Linked DNA regions of Homo sapiens: region 1 is linked to region 2. A link means that fine-mapping ties the variant in region 2 to the expression of a gene that starts in the linked region. Tissue or cell type: tibial artery. Region 2 holds a variant in brackets; the other region holds the start of a gene. All regions are shown on one strand. Distances are between the middles of the regions.

The links. PIP is the estimated chance that this variant, and not a neighbour inherited with it, causes the effect.
Region 1: NYAP2 starts here. The variant in region 2 is fine-mapped to the expression of NYAP2 in tibial artery (GTEx, PIP 0.97).

Annotation. Positions count from the first base shown.
Region 1 is chr2:225,395,460-225,403,571 of GRCh38, forward strand. It overlaps NYAP2 (neuronal tyrosine-phosphorylated phosphoinositide-3-kinase adaptor 2), which reads left to right and starts at 4,251. Exons shown (of 8, transcript NM_001371273.1): 1 at 4,251-4,796; 2 at 5,102-5,584.
Region 2 is chr2:224,970,947-224,978,946 of GRCh38, forward strand. The region is part of intron 1 of DOCK10 (dedicator of cytokinesis 10); the gene reads right to left. Among named protein-coding and RNA genes, the nearest start is that of MIR4439, 36 kb to the right of the region's middle. The variant C/A (reference allele first, on the strand shown) is at 4,372.

The DNA of each region.
Region 1 (8,112 bases), 420 kb after region 2:
TGTCTCTCTACTCTCTCTTCTCTCTCTTCTCTCTCTCTGTCTCTCTCCCCCTCCCTCCTTCCCTCCCTCCCTCCCATGTGAGGACACACAGCCAGAAGGTACAATTTGCAAGCCAGCAAAGAATCCCTGACCAGAAGCCAAATCTGCCAGCACCTTGATCTTGGAGTATCCAAGCTCCAGAACTGTGAAAAATAAAATTCTGTTATTTAAGCCACTCAGTCGATTGTATCTTGTTTTCAAAGCCTGAGTTGACTAAAACAGTATCTTAGAAGAATCTTACTGTTTTCTCTAAATATGATCCTTATGTTCATATATTCAGTTGGTCTTCCTATGGAGCAATTTTATTATTTCTAGTAAGTTTCAAACTGGTTATTTTGCATTTTTAGTTAGAAAAACTATGGAGTCCCTTTGGAAATATTTTTCTTCCTCACTTACTTGGAGTTTAGTTTGGTTACTTGTATATTTAAATTTCCATTTATACTTTTATTTTAAAAAAAGACAATCTCATGTTCATTATATGGATACATTTGAATTTTCTACTTGTGCAGAATATGTCACCAGATGAGATATGTAGTCATGCATTCATTCAATAAATCCCTACCACTGGCTAGATGCAATCAGTAAGCTGGGGCCATGCGAACAGAAAGGAAGGGCTCCACTCTTAAGGACTCTTAGGCAAAAACATTTGAACAATGAAATAGGAATATTTGGTAGAGTATAAAAAATTCATGATTTTATTTTTAATTATACTGGATATTTCATAATACAGAGAGCAAGCATCCAGTTTGAATGTGGTAAATTAGGACAAACTATGAGAGTAAGACATACTTGACTTTTGAAAAGTATAGATATTGTTCATGCAAAGAAGAGAGATGGTTGGTTGGAGTGTGGGTGTGTGATTCACTAGAATATATGGATCCTTGTTTAGAAATATTTTTATCATTTTTAGTATAGCGATGAATACATTGATGGTATTTCTGAAATCTTTACTGGAAAATATCTGTTGGACAAAACAATGGAGGGATGTTTGGATCTATTCCTAAGTCTCTTGCCAGGGGAATATTTCATTTATTGTCAGTTTTCCCCCTTGGCACTGTAAAAGTAGTTTTTTGTGTGTATTATTAGACCATAAATCTTTTACTTTTTCTTTCTGTTTTAGCTACTGAGTATGCTGGATCTTGGAGCACCCATATCACCATTTGCTGCCCCACGACCCCTAAGTCATATGTGCAACTTCTGTCGACATCTACATTGTTATAGGCAAAAATCATGAGGAGCATATGGTTTTCATTCTACCAAGACTTTCATTTCACACTGTTACCAGAAGGGTTAGAAATCCTGATTGGATGGGAAGGAGATTAGCTTTTTCCTTAGTGGAATAATTTCATTTTAACAGAGGGGTCACCTTCCTAAGCTAAATGTGAAAAGAATGATAGAAAGAGTACAGATCATGGAAAAAAAAAAAAAACTAGAAAGGCTTTGTAGTAAATTTTGATATGACTTCAGAGAGTTCATCCTCACTTCATGTATTTGAATAAACCCTTTAAAATTTAGGTAACTAAATTATTCTATTTCAATTCTCACTTTTCTCATTTACGTCACTTTTATACAACAAGCACTTTCCACCATCTGGCTGATGTATAGAATAAGAAGCATTTTCAGGGCGCTGACTCGTCTGGTCTATCCAAGTTCACTGAAGGGACCTATTTAACCCCCAAAGCATCAAACTCTATTAATACAGTGTAACCAAAAGAGCTAAACTCTACCCTGACTAAAGAACTTTAAAAGAAATATCAAGTCATCAGGTATCTCAATGACTTGTTTCTTATTGACATCAATAAGATGTCTATTCAATAGAGTAGAAATAGAATAGAAACATCCATGTATTTTATAAAGATGCACAAGAAATAAACCAATACATGAGTATAATTTGAGCTTTTTAAATATCTCTATACCTTTATTCCCGATATGAGGATTTTTAACTTAAATTTTGTCCAACGCACTTTTCTCCAGATACTATTGAAATGAGTAGAGGTGCGTTCTGCATTTGGCTCTAAGATGATTTGCAAGAGTAAAGATGCTTTGCTGTTTCATTCAGTGAGACCTAAAGTAGTTCTGGGGTCCTTCTCAGCACGATCCTCAAAGGTTCTATAAACTCCTATACACTAATATGTCTCCAGAGAATATATTGCCCTGTCAGTGACATTGACACCTAGAATGAGGAAAGTGTGGGATTGAGAAAATGGGATTGGTAAAATGTGATGATTCTCAAGCCCTATTCTGTAATATAAAGAGAAAAAGAAAGAAAAAGAAAAAGGCAGGGAGGCAGGCAAGTAGGAAGGAAGGAAGGAAGTAAAGAAGGAAAAGAGGAAGGAAAGAAGGAAGGGAGAAAGGGAGGGAGGGATGAAGCAAGGAATGAAGGAAAGAAAGAAGAAACAAAACAAGGAAGGAAAGGGGAGGGAGGAGAGGGAGGAAGGAAGGAAGGAAAGAAAGAAAAAGATATATTTTCCTAAAGTTGAATATATGAAACTTAAAAGACCATCTATTGTTATAAATATGCTTTCTCTATTCTTCTAATATAAAGATTCCTTTTACTTTTTGAATTTTTGTGGTGAGGAAATGGCAGATTCTTCATTTTTTATGCTTGGCAACTGTATGTCAGCCTCTCCTCACTTTGTTTGGATTATTTTGGTGCATGAAATCAAGGGGACTGAGAACCACTGTACTGGCCAAAGATGAGGAGACCTGCAGTCAGCCCAGGGACCTTGGGTCTTAATCCTAATGAGGCAATTAAGTAAGTCAGAAACAAGTAAGTCTGTTTACTTATCTTGGTAGTATTTTTCTTACATATAGAAATGGGCTTTACACTAGAGCTTATTCAAGCTCTCCATAGTTCAAAATATAGACCCCCAGACTGGCAAAATTATCAGTCATGATAAAGTGTTTCCGTTTTCTAAAATGTCTGTCAATAATTTTTTTTTTGTAAAGAACTTTTTCCACCTTTGGTCATGTGCTGAAAGACAACATCTATGAGAACACTTCACTACCAAAATAATGGCACATTAGTAAACCTCTTGATCACAGTGTGGTGGCTGTTACTAGTTTATAAGTGGTGCTTGAGGCACTTTTCAGCAATGTGCTAAGTATTTAGAACCTTCATAAGGCAGAGAGAGAGAGAGAGAGAGGGAAAGGGAGAGCATTGGGATAGGGGGAAGAGAATATGAGAGAGGTCTGGCCTCTTCTCTTCCCCGTTTGTATTTCTCCTCCTTTTCATCTATCTAATCTTGCAGAATCCTTCTTAAAATTAAACAGATGTCCTGTTCTAACCAAAAGCTAGATACACAAAGACCAAGAAATAAGTGATGAGCTTCAGGAATGCACTTCAGGACATGTAAAATAGAAAAGCTTTATAGTAATGTAATGTGTTGATTTTATTTTTCCCCAGATACTTACAAGTTAAAGAAATATAATTTAAGAAAATTACAGCACAGTCTCAGGTGACATTTAAGAATTAGACAGGTGAACTTGTTTATTTTTGTGGTCTGTCAATGCATTAAAAACTAAATTCAGAAAACTATTTTCTAAGACTTTGGTTATGAATATAGACGTTAAAAAACACTCTTGGGAAAACCAACCTGCAAGTGAAGGTCATTTACAGTGAGTTACTGAAAAAGAATGTGAGGGGAAAAATCTATAGGTCACTATCAAGTAATAAGCACATCCCCTCCCATCAAAATTGCTTTTTAAGCTCATATCCATCAGAAACATATTATATATTATTCCTTTTATCATAGTGCAAAATTAATAGATTAAAACATGTACATTTTAGTTTTTACTGAGGAGGAGCCAGTATGAGAAAAACTTTGAGCTTAATAAATACAAATACACACAAACACACATATATAAGTTGTGGTATATAATGTGATATATATGTATATATTCAGTAGAGTATTAAGAACAGAATGAGGAGAGTCTTTGGGAAATATCAGAAATAGAATGACTTTAATTTTAACAATGAGTCTATAGGAATTAATGACATACATATCATAATTATTTTGCATCTTATTTTAGTTAAAAAAATGTGCAGTCCGAGTAAGACCTTTGTTCCACACACGTGTGTGCTGTGCATATTCTTTCTAAGTGGACTAGTTTTGTTCTCATGCCATGGGAGCAGGTGGCATGAAGCTGTTTTGATGAGGTTAAAAGGCTCCTCCCCTCTCTCCCCAAGCAGCAGCCTGAAGTACGTCAGCAGTAATTGTGTGCATGGCTCGGCTGTGCAGGGAGGGTGGAGGCAAAATTGATATCAAATAAGGGTATCAAACTGAGATCTAGATGTTCCATTTAAGTTGTTGTTCATTTTCATTAGCCACGCCAGGGGTGAAATGCTTATAACTTAACCATTCTCTGTAGTAAGAACATTTGTTTTCAATGGATTTATATTTTTCCTCTCCATAAAGACTGAATTAGTGCTATAGTGAATATAAATGAAGGGTGTTTCTTTACCCTCTTTTCCTTTTATTATTTACTAATCAGACTTCAGCTCAGTTAGATAAAAGAGAGAGGTTCTGTTGCCTAGATGTGAGGCCTTTAATGAGGATGGGAGCCCCCAGGGAGCCGAAATCCAAAGTAGAACGATGCCGCTTTCCGGTTTCTTGCAATTTCTTCAGTTGCTTCTCCCTTTTCCAATGGGCCTAGTGAGCAGGAACTATCCAAGGTGCTAGAACGCTGGCAGCCTTGCCGTTCAATGCAGACGGATTGCAGAAACAGAGAAGAAAGATTACTGCTTATTTCAGAAGGTAGGTTCTTTGTTTCAGAATCCCTGATTAATCAGCAGCAGCTTCAACAGACTAAGGCAGCTGGAGAGGAGAAAGAGAAGCAGGAAGGGAGGGAGTCAGGGGCAGGGAGGGAGGGAGGGAGTGGAGGGAGAGAGAATGAGAGAGAGAGAGCTGGTTGTCACGGGGGAGGGACTATGCCACAAGCTGGGCTGCTCCAAACCTTCTGTATGTAAGTGGCAATGAGAAAGAGCATCTTTTTGGCTGAAAGGAGACATTTAGAAAGGATGTTTCTGATTTTTTGTTTTCATTTATTTTTGTCTTCGCAGAATATAATCAAATGAGGTACATTAGCCAGCTTGGTGATTGCTTCTGGTCCTGTAATCATCTGTGTAGCAAAGTGGGTAAAATCATTCAATTTCTTCCCTGCTGGACCTGGAAGGAGAGGGGCTGTGTGTTCATCCCCACCCATTAGCTATGCCCTCTTTTCTCCGAATGTCGATTTAAGGAAGCAAGCACCTGTCTTCCGCCACTGCATCTTCCTAGCAAACTTTAAAGGCCATTTTATCTGATAGGAAGGACATCGAGAATGCTCTGATCTAGTGATGAAGAATCTGGGAGTCGACACTTTTCCCATCCAGACACAATGCACTTTAATTGAAGAAACACTGAGCTGAACTACAAGTCTATTTCTTATGGTGCTGGATTACTCCTACAGAACTGCCCTGAGATCAACCGTGAGAGAGGGCTCTGACAGACACAAGTCACCTTCTGGTTATTGCACTTAGCTCTCCCTGGGGACTTAAATTTTGGTATGTATCTCATTTTTCAGATTCTCTAAGCATGCTAATCGAATCCAGCACTGAATAGATCAAGCAATCTGGTGATAAAATGGAATGGATTTTAGTTAGGGATACTTAATGCTGAAGTTTGCATGCCTTATTAGGTGGAGCAGAAATAAAGCCACAGTGAAGGCATCCAGGGCTTTAGTGAGCCTGAGGCTATTTTTACTCCCTTACCCACTTAGTTACATTACCATGGAAATGGTTAAACTAGATTTTCATTAGTAAAATAAGCCATGTTGAATTATTAAAGCTTTGAAAATGTTTTCCAGGGTATTAATTGGCATTCAAGTTGTGCATGCTAGCTATTTATCCGCTATTCCATACCATAAATATTTTACAACTGTCTCTTAGCACATTTATGTCAGCAGTGAGAGCCCAATTTTACATTCTCAGGAGAAAAGACACAGTATCCCCCAAAATTCAAAACTACCAGACAAACAGCAAAGCCGACACTGCTTCTTCCTGACTGATTAGACATAAACCTCTTTGAGAAACATTTTTTAATACTATTCAATGTCAGAAAGATTTTATTAGTCTCATCACAATAAATATTTTCTGTAAAACTTTAGGTGGACTTGTTTTACTTGGGACATGTTCTTATTTTGTTGGGGTGTCTCCATCCTAATTTTTCCAACTACTCAGCAATATTTTAAATACAAGACATGTGAGTATTTCATATCTGGAAAAACTATTACATAAAATAATATTTTTCACTATCATTGGGAAATACTAAAGTTCTTTTGGTACCATAGAATTGGATTTTTTTTTCTAAATATAGCCGAAAAATAATGAAATTCTGAAAAGCTTACATGATGTAGTTTTAGTCATTTTAACATCCAAGCATTTATAACCAAGTAGTGTGGAATAACAAATATAGAGAAAGAGTGAAAATTAACTCTCTTCCTAATTCTTCACATTTTAGACAATGTTCTCATTTATTTTATATATTGTCAAGCACTAATTACACAAATTAATGAGAAAATGTGGTCCACAAATGCAGAAATTATTTTGTTTTCCTATGGAAAGTGCAACATACATGAGCCAACTCAGCAAAGAAAGGGACTATGTGAAGGACATAGACAGTTTAGAGAATTAGTGGAAACAGACCAGAGGAAAATATTACAACTGCACAAGGGACAGTGGAGAAGCCTGAGGACTTGAAGCATCTGTCAAGTTTAGAAAGAGAAGTGTAAAAATCCTAGACACAAGAAGGTTGGTTATTGTTTAAAAAAATAAATAAATTATAGACTCCCAATTCAATTAGATGGTTCCCACTGTAGCTCCAGTCAGCAATTTATTAGACTGACTACATCTACTTTGCAAATAATGCCTTGTAAGCATCTGGAACCATTTGGCCCAAGCCTCCAAAAAGTATCTCAGCCACTGGCATTTTGCATGAGTCTCCAATATTAATGGAAATGTACAATCTCTTTACACCATGGGCAAACAGCACCATGACAACCTGGAAGATGAGGGGGAGATACCAATTCATGATGCTACTGCATTAACACGATTTATGCCTATCTTACTCATTTTGGGAAGAGAGATAGTGGAGAAAAACTCACTGCAAAGTAATCTGCTTTCTGAGAAAAAAGCAATCAGTGTCTTTGTAGTCACTTTAGCAAGCTTTCTTGGTTGTAGCTTCAACATTTCCCATTTTGGGCAGAACAGCTGCATTTTGATGACACTGAGAATGAGAAAATGAGTGTGACCATTTGTGGGGTAGGGAGTAGGATTTCAAGCATAATCAAAGTGAAATTATAGGAGTAATGCTTGACAAATTATAAGATTTTATCAGAAAAAAATTTTGACATGGTTTACATGTGTTATGGGTTATAACCAGGCTAGTCTGATGATTTGGTCCTATGTGAAGTCAGCAAATTTTAAATATTAATTTGCATATGTATTTTACATATGTATCAGAAGCCTGATTATTTAAATCCTTACATTTTCATACACAATGTGTTTTCAAATTGGTTTGAGTACATGCAAAAGTTGTAAAAGATTTTTTTCTCCTGCTAAACAAAAACAACAAAAAATAGTCAAAATTGCCTTGGGAAACTTTTATTGGATCAATACTACTAGAAAAAAAGTAGGATTCTCTACCTCAAAGAAGATGCAATGATTGGAGTAGGAAGGAAACTCAAATCTTAATAACTCAAATTCTAATAACTTCCTCACAGCATTGAGACAGGTGTGGTTTAAAGAGCTCAGAAATATATAAAGGTGGAGACTAGAAAACTTTACCCTCTGCAAATAAAATAAAAACACAAATGTGAAGTACAATAAAAGTAAAATATTTAGGTTTCCATCAGGACATTTGTTCCATTCTATGTATTGTGTTCTTCTGGCTGGTCACAATTAGCATTATAATAATCGCACAAAATAAACTATCTTATTATAGCTATAAGATTATCTTGTAGGATTAACTGTGGCCTAAAATTAAGGAAGCTTCTCATAGAGCTTCAGGTATTAAGATTAGGAAGCCATTCTTT
Region 2 (8,000 bases):
ATTAAGAGGAGGAAATACCATGTAGTTAAAAAGAATGTGGGTCTCATCATTTTGAGACCTGAACAAATACCCTTGCTCTGCCAGCAACTTTGTAGAAGCTACAGATAAGTCAATTTACCTGTTTGGGCCTGGATTTCATCTTCCAGTGAGGCAGCTGGATTCTATAATATCAAATTTCTAACATTTTATTCTATATAATCTATATTAAAAACCCTGACTTTTAAAGAGAAGTACCATTTGAGCAGAATAATGCCACTGTATTATTGGATATTGAACAGAAAAATGCCACTGCAAGAGATCCCAGACCTGAGTCAACAGAGACACGGAGGGCAGGAAGGTGCAGTGGGAAGAGGGTGTGGTTGGGTTGCAAGAGGGGAGGGGAGGTGGGTGGAGTGAAAGAAGTGGGCATGGCCAGATTGCAGGTGAAGAGAGGAGAGGAGGTGGGTGGAATGGGAGGAATGGGCGCGGTTGCACTGTAGCAGGGTGTGAAGTGAAAGAGGTGGGTGTGGCTGGGCTTGCAGGGAAGGTGGCAGGTACACATTTGCCTAGGGCCACACCGGATGGGTGACTTTGGACAAATGCAGTAATAGCTACACCTCATAGTTCAATGCAGCCACCACTAGCCATAAGTGGCTATGAAGTCCTTGAAAGGTGGTTAGTGTGACAAAGAAACTAAATCTTTAATTTTACTTAATTTTATTTAACTTTGATTTAACTTTAAGAATTGATTATTTTATCTAGTAACTGGAAAACATTTAACTAGTTTTGGAGAAACTTTGGAATATGAATTTACTCTTTCAACTATAAATTTTATGAAATCTGAATACTGAACAAATATTTGTGATTAAAGATTTAGCATCCAAATTGAAATGTGTTATATGTATAAATGTACACCACATTTTGAAGATTTGGCGTGAAAAAAACTATGAAGTATTGTAATAATTTTTATATTGATTACATGCCAACATAATAATAGTTTGGATATATAGGTTTAAAGAAAATATATTATTAAAACTAACTTAATATGCTTTTTTTCTTTTTCAAATATGGCCCCTAGAAAATTCAAAATTACATATGTGGCTTATGTTATATTTCAATTGGTCAGAGCTACTCCGTGTGCTTTAATTTCTTCCTTAACTATATTGGAACAAAAATCACAATATCCTTCAGAGGGACTGTGGCAACAAATAAAGAATACTGTGCAAAGTTTGTAGCAAAGTGACTATCAGAATTGGAAGTGCTCAGCAAAGAACTATTATTTTTGGACATTATTTCCATGTTCACTTCCTCCAATTATTCATAAAGCAGAATTTTAAGGTAATCTGTGGGTTACTCAGTTCTCATAAAGTGTATGAAAGCAAAGAAGGCCCTTGATTACCCAGTGACCAATATTAAGGATGCAGATAATCTACCAAATGAATCCATATTCTTTCCACCTAACAGATTCCTACTTTCTACCTTTATGACCCATAAGATATGGCTTGCATTCATTCATTCATCAAACCTTTGATTGAGTACCTATTGGTAGAAGAATCAAGATGCTGTAATTTTGCATTCTTAAGTTTCTTAATGATTACAAATCTGTAATAAAAAATCTACTCACAATTAAAAACACTGAGATAACTTTAAAATTACAAATGAGATACAATCTATTCTCCATCTCTAAATTAGTAAGTTCAGTTGTACCTACTGAACTTAAAATGCATTCTCTCTCACCTGATTTTCGACTTTTCTTTATGATTGTGGTGGTTTTAAATCCTAAACATTCAAGCTTTTGTTCCTTATAATTTTTAAATTTGGCACAATTTGAGAATGACAAAGTTGAAATTAAATGGTTAATTTCAGTTGTATTAAAGGCTGCAACATTCCTTTAATAAATGATGAAAGGAAAACAGAAGAAACTGAAAGTTAAATTTCGGAAAACTGGCAATTAGTGGATAACACAGAAGAGAACTCAAATAAACTTATGTTCTTTGAATAATCTATTTGTGTGAATAATCTATTCAATAAGTATTTCAGTGCTCTCATAAATAAGCTAACTTTGAATTTCCATTTTTACACATTTTATGAAGCACAAAGTAAGTTTCTGCTTAACAGATTCTTTTTTCTATAACAATTCTTTAAAGTAAATTAAGTTTGTAAATTTTTCTTTGTTTCAATAAGACAATATACACAATAATAATAGCTAAAACTTAGTGAATTCTTAGCAAGTGCCAGGCACTCTTACAGGCCCTTTACTTGAATTCACTCAGTGAATCCTTAAACAACCCTGATAGATAGTATGGTAGGCAGAACAACAGCCCCTTAACAACGTACATGTCCTAATCCCCAGAACCTGTGCCTATGTCATTTACACAGCAGAGGGTAATCCAGGCTGTAGATGGGAATCAGCTAACCTAGAGATGGGAGAGGAGCGTGGATCAGCCAGGTGGGGCCAATGTAATCACAGGGGTCCTTACGAGTGAAAGAGGAAGGTGGGAGAGTCAGAGATCAGAGTCGGAGAGTCGCTGGAAGACACTATGCTTCTGGCTTTGAAGATGAACCAGGACCACAAACCAAGGAATGTGGGCAGCCTCTAGAACTTGGAAAAGGCAAGGAAACAGATTCTCCCCTAGCACCCCGAGAAAGGAATGCAGCTCTGCCAATTTTAGCCCAGTGAGATCCGTTTCAGATTTCTGATCTCCAGAAATGTAATACACGTGTTTTAACTGTAAGACAATATGTGTGTTGTTTAAAACTAAGTTCGTGGTCATTTATTACAGCAGAAATAGGAAACTAAGGCAGATAGGCACCCTCACGACTCTCATTTTACAGACAGGGAAGCCAAGGTATACAGAATTTAAATAGCTGACCCAGAGATCACACTGCCAGCAAGTGCTTTGGCAAGTGACTCAGACCCACACACCCTGGTTCCTCACCCATGGCAATGCAATGTAAATCAGGGCTGGCATGTGGCATTTTCTCATGTGGTTTCTGGGTACAGAGGTTTTTCTGTTTCTTCTTAGCATCTATTTATTCTCCAGGTCTCAGCTGCATTGCCACTGCCTTAGGGGAGGCCTTCCCTGACTGATTTGAGGAGGTGCGATGTCCAAAGGATGCAGTTTTAAGGTAAGGTAGAATGCAATTCTCAGGGAAGTACTTATCATGATTACAATTTTCCATTTGTTTGAGCTCTGTGTCTGCCACCAAACTGTAAGTGCAGGGCAGCAGCAGTCTATTGTCATCTGTGCCTACCAAATGCAAGGTGCAATTGTCTCAGTTGTTTATTGAGTTTCTGATGTTTAGACAATCTAACCATGACAAACTCACTGCATGCAAATTGAATGTATTGGGCATGGTCTTAAAAACTAAAATACGTTCCAGCAGAATGAAATAGATTTGGAAAAATGAATTTCAAAAACCCTAAGCTTTAGCCCCTATCAGAGTAAATCAGTTCCATGAAAATAAAATCTGAGAATAAAACAGCTATCCACAAGAAACTTATTGAAGGCTGACAAAAATACTGTATTTATATCTGGTTTGCCAAAAGACACATTATATCCTCAACTGTATTACTCAGTTTTCACAAAGTTTTATTATATTGAAGCCTGGCGTTTAGAGAAAATCCTAAAAACTACTCTTCTAGAAGGCAAAGAAACAAAACCCCAAACAAGCATACCAGTTTTTTTCTATATTTGATTATGTTTTAAAAATTAACAGACGTTTTATTAGCAGTAATTTGTTGGAGTCTATACTTTTTCTAGCCATAAAACTACATGTTTTTACTTGGTAATATGATGTTTTTCATCTCCACAGTATGATTTCCCCCAAAACACGTACATCCACTAAAGGTATAATGTTCTCTCTATATATATCATATATATTATATATATAATATATATATATTATATATAACATATACACACACGTATATATGAGTATATATACGTGTGTGTGTGATATGTATTTATCTATAGCTCTATCTACATATAGTTGAATTTGCTTTGTTTTTGGTATAAGTTTCTATGTATCACCTCCCCCAATCACCACACCGATACTTGGTTTTCCGATTTTCTTTATCACTGTGTTGGTTTTAGATTTTAAGCTGTTTTGATTTTTCTTTTTAGACACTGTGTATTTTTTCTTTGCTTCTAATCATTTCTAAATTTGGTACAATTTGGAGAATTAAAAAGATGCAAGATTATCTGAACAAGATGATACAGGGCGTAATTGGAGTTTAGTAAGCCTTTACCTCGAAGATTTATGTTGCTAATTACTAAGGCTCTCATTACATTCAATTAATTCTCATACCCAGAGAGAAGCCATTCAATTCATTTGTCCATTTTCTGTGGCTTTGGGATGCAACTCAAAATTAGTTCACAAGGGAAAATA[C/A]CTCCAAAGATTCTATGTGCTTTAAAGCTCCATGTTATACCCATTTATGGTAGACTGTTTAAACTCATACTCCATGACACAGGCTTTCTTTCCCAGGGGAATCTGATAATATTCATATATTCAAGATTCAACCTCACTGAAATGAAATAGAAACATTAGCTCAGGATTTAGAGATTCTGGAAATTGTTTCTTCTTCATACATATACTGAAAAAGATGAAACTGGGCAAAACATGTTAACATTCTTTGATAATAAAACTTTGTTAGGTTAGAATATTTACTATAGGGATAAGAAGAGAGTCAATTTATTTCCTTTGGAGTAGTTTCCATAGTTTCCATAGTATGTCCCTCTCTGGTCCTGATTGTATTCATAGGACACAAATTAAACAAATGTATGTTCCAAAGATATGGAATTACTGTTTTCATAAATAATTCATTTCCTTCATTTAACTTGCTTCCTTATATGAGGTTCTCAAAGTACTTGAGCAGGAAAGAAGAATTATTGTCTTCTACAAGTGGGGGACCCGAATGTGGGGATTTGCTGAAGGTCAAAAAGCAAATCAAGTAGAAGCTTGATAACACCCTCACTGGCCTCTCTTGTTCACTGTACCACCTTTTTTTGGGTGTGGAACAAATACAGTGAAATCCTAATGTAAATCACCTCCCTATATTGCTGAGTGAGTTACCCAGGGGATACAATGAATTCTGACCAGCATACTGTGGATTTCTTATAAGCCATGTGAGCCTGCCGACCTGCAAGACTCCATCGCTTTATAATGTGAATTAGTTTACAATGTGATTCTACGAAAGTCACAGGAACAGAAAACCAAACACCACATGTTCTCACTCATAAGTGGGAGTTGAACAATGAGAACACATGGACACAGGGAGGGGAACATCACACACCAGGGCCTGTTGAGGGGTGGGGGGAAAGGGGAGGGAGAGCATTAGGAAAAACACTTAATGCATGCAGGGCTTAAAACCTAGATGATGGGTTGATAGGTGCAGCAAACCACCATGGCACATGTATACCTGTGTAACAAACCTGCACGTTCTGCACATGCATCCCAGAACTTAAAGTAAAATAATAATAATTTAAAAAGTCAATATTCTGGTGCTTCCAACAGACAGGACAGATAATAGTCCCCATTTAGCCAACTAGGAGAAATGAGTCAGCATGTCTAGGTTATCTGGGCTTTTATTAATATTAAGTGACAGACTTGAGACTCTGACTTGAAATCTAGAGTTTCTCAATCATAGTAGTTCTCAGACCCTCAGGTGAACAACAGGTACCCAGGGAAAAAACCAAGTTCCCTGGTATCTTGTCGGGGATAACAGAAAATACGCTGTAGAGGTCAAAGTTAATTAAAAAAAAAAAAAAAAAGGTTCCTTTGTGGTTGAGGCCACGTCATTCACCAGACAGGGGTCAGTAAGCATTTTCTGTAAATGGTCAGAATACTTTAGGCTTGGTGGGCCATATATGGTCTCTGTATCTTTTGCCCTATGCCACCCTCTTCCTCCTTCTTTTGTTTTTGGTTTTGTTTTGTAACATTTAAAACTGTGAAAATCATTCTTAGCTCAAGCACTGTATGGCTGCAGGCAGATTTTGACCCACAAACTGTATAGTTAATCAGAGTGCTGGACCGAGCAAATTCTGAAGCACCAACAGAGAGGACTTGTCAGGGAGGTCTTGGAGCAGTAACTGCAATTCCCTTACTCAGAAATGTTTGCCATATAAGTGCACACATCCTTGACTCACAGAAGAGATTTCACCTTCCCAACTCACCGCAAATTTAGGCTATTGTTAATTTCCTGCCTTAGACGAAAATTCAAGACAAAGCCATATTTGGCTTGCTGTATATGCTAGATCTTTGGCAGTCCTAAATTTAAATGTTATGGTTTCTACTATTTCAGAGAAACCCCAGAATGTTCATGGATTTTAAAGTTTTTTTTCACTTTTGAGTTGAGACCTGTGAATCTGGTGTGTGGGTATTGGTCATATAACCAAAGTGAGACTAGTAGCCTGACCAACACTTGCTTTTCTTTCTCCTCTTGTGCCACCTCTAAACTCCAAAGTGTGAACAGAAAAACATTCTCTTTCGGGGGAAGGGGAAAGAAAAAGACTTAAAATGAAGCTAACTTCTGGGGTTGGTGATGAGTAAATGACATAGGAAATAATAGACATTAACCAGAAAATAGTAAATCTACATAAATTGAATTAGTGTCTGAGAACTTTAAGAAAATATGCTATAAAGGAAGTAAAAAAAAATTATGAAAGTTTCTGTTAATTCTCCCACCAAAAAGTTTTTTTGAGTGAGAGATAAAATTAAAGCTTTAAAGGAATTTCTTCATTTTTTCCCCGTTAAACTTGACTGCATCGTAACAGGCCATTGTAATGGTCTCAGATGTCAGGATTCATGTGTTTCTTTTAAATAAGAATCTACATTAGTTAATTTTGATATTTAGCAATTTCTCTCCACTTTGGACTATATAGGCTAGACTACAATTATGCCAGCCCAAATCTTATCTCTGCACAAAGATTCAGAACCTAGACCACAGGAATGAGACTCTGATACAACTTCCATTATGAAGTTTTGAATGCCAAAGCCTTCTGAAGGGTATCAATATTCAAAGCCTTGTATTTATCCTGGCAACTTTCTTCATCCTTAACTCACTCTTGGACATTTCAATTAAGAGTTAAGTGGGCATCTTTATCAACTGAATTTTGCATATTAGTGACAACTGCTTAAAAATATCAAATAATCAACAGATCCCTATTTAGCTTCGATGTAAAAGGCTTTGGGCTGGGTACTAATGGAGCAAGAAGGAAGCTTAGAGGCTAGGTGTGGTGGCTCATGCCTGTAATACCAGCACTTTGGGAGGCTGAGGCGAGTGGAACACGAGGTCAGGAGTTCGAGACCAGCCTGGCCCACATGGTGATACCTCGTCTCTATTAAAAATACAAAAAATTAGCAGATGTGGTGGCACGTGCCTGTAATCCCAGCTACTTGGGAGGCTGAGGCAGAAGAATCGCTTGAACCCTGGAAGCGGAGGTTGCAGTGAGCTGAGATTGCACCAACACACTCCAGCCTGGGCAATAGAGCAAGACTCCGTCTCGGAAAAAAAAAAGTAGGCTTACTTTCTGCCTTTGAGGGTCAAGGTCAAAGCAAGGAGAACATTAATTAGGAAGCGATTGCTCTGGTAGATGGAATTTCCTGTCTACCAGTGAGATAAGAAAAATATGTGATCAGCAAGTAAATAAACAATTATACATTCAAGTAAATAGGCAGAGATGTGTTAGAAGGTAATGCGTGATTAACTTTCAAATGGATTTATACACTATAAATATTATAGGAGATTAGAAGAGAGAAAGATCATTTATCAATCGGTTATTGATGTTTACATTGGGCTAGGCTTTACTCCTCTTTATATAGTTCCTTGAAACTCCAGACATATATGCAACTTCCTACTTGACATCTCCATCTATAGACCTAACAGGGATTTCAAACTCAGCATCCTTAGGGTGAGCTTAGATTCTGTCTCCAAACTTTCCACTTCTGTGTTCTTTATCTGAATGGCAACTTGGTTCTTCTGGATATTCAGGCCATAACAAGCACAGTCAACTCTGACA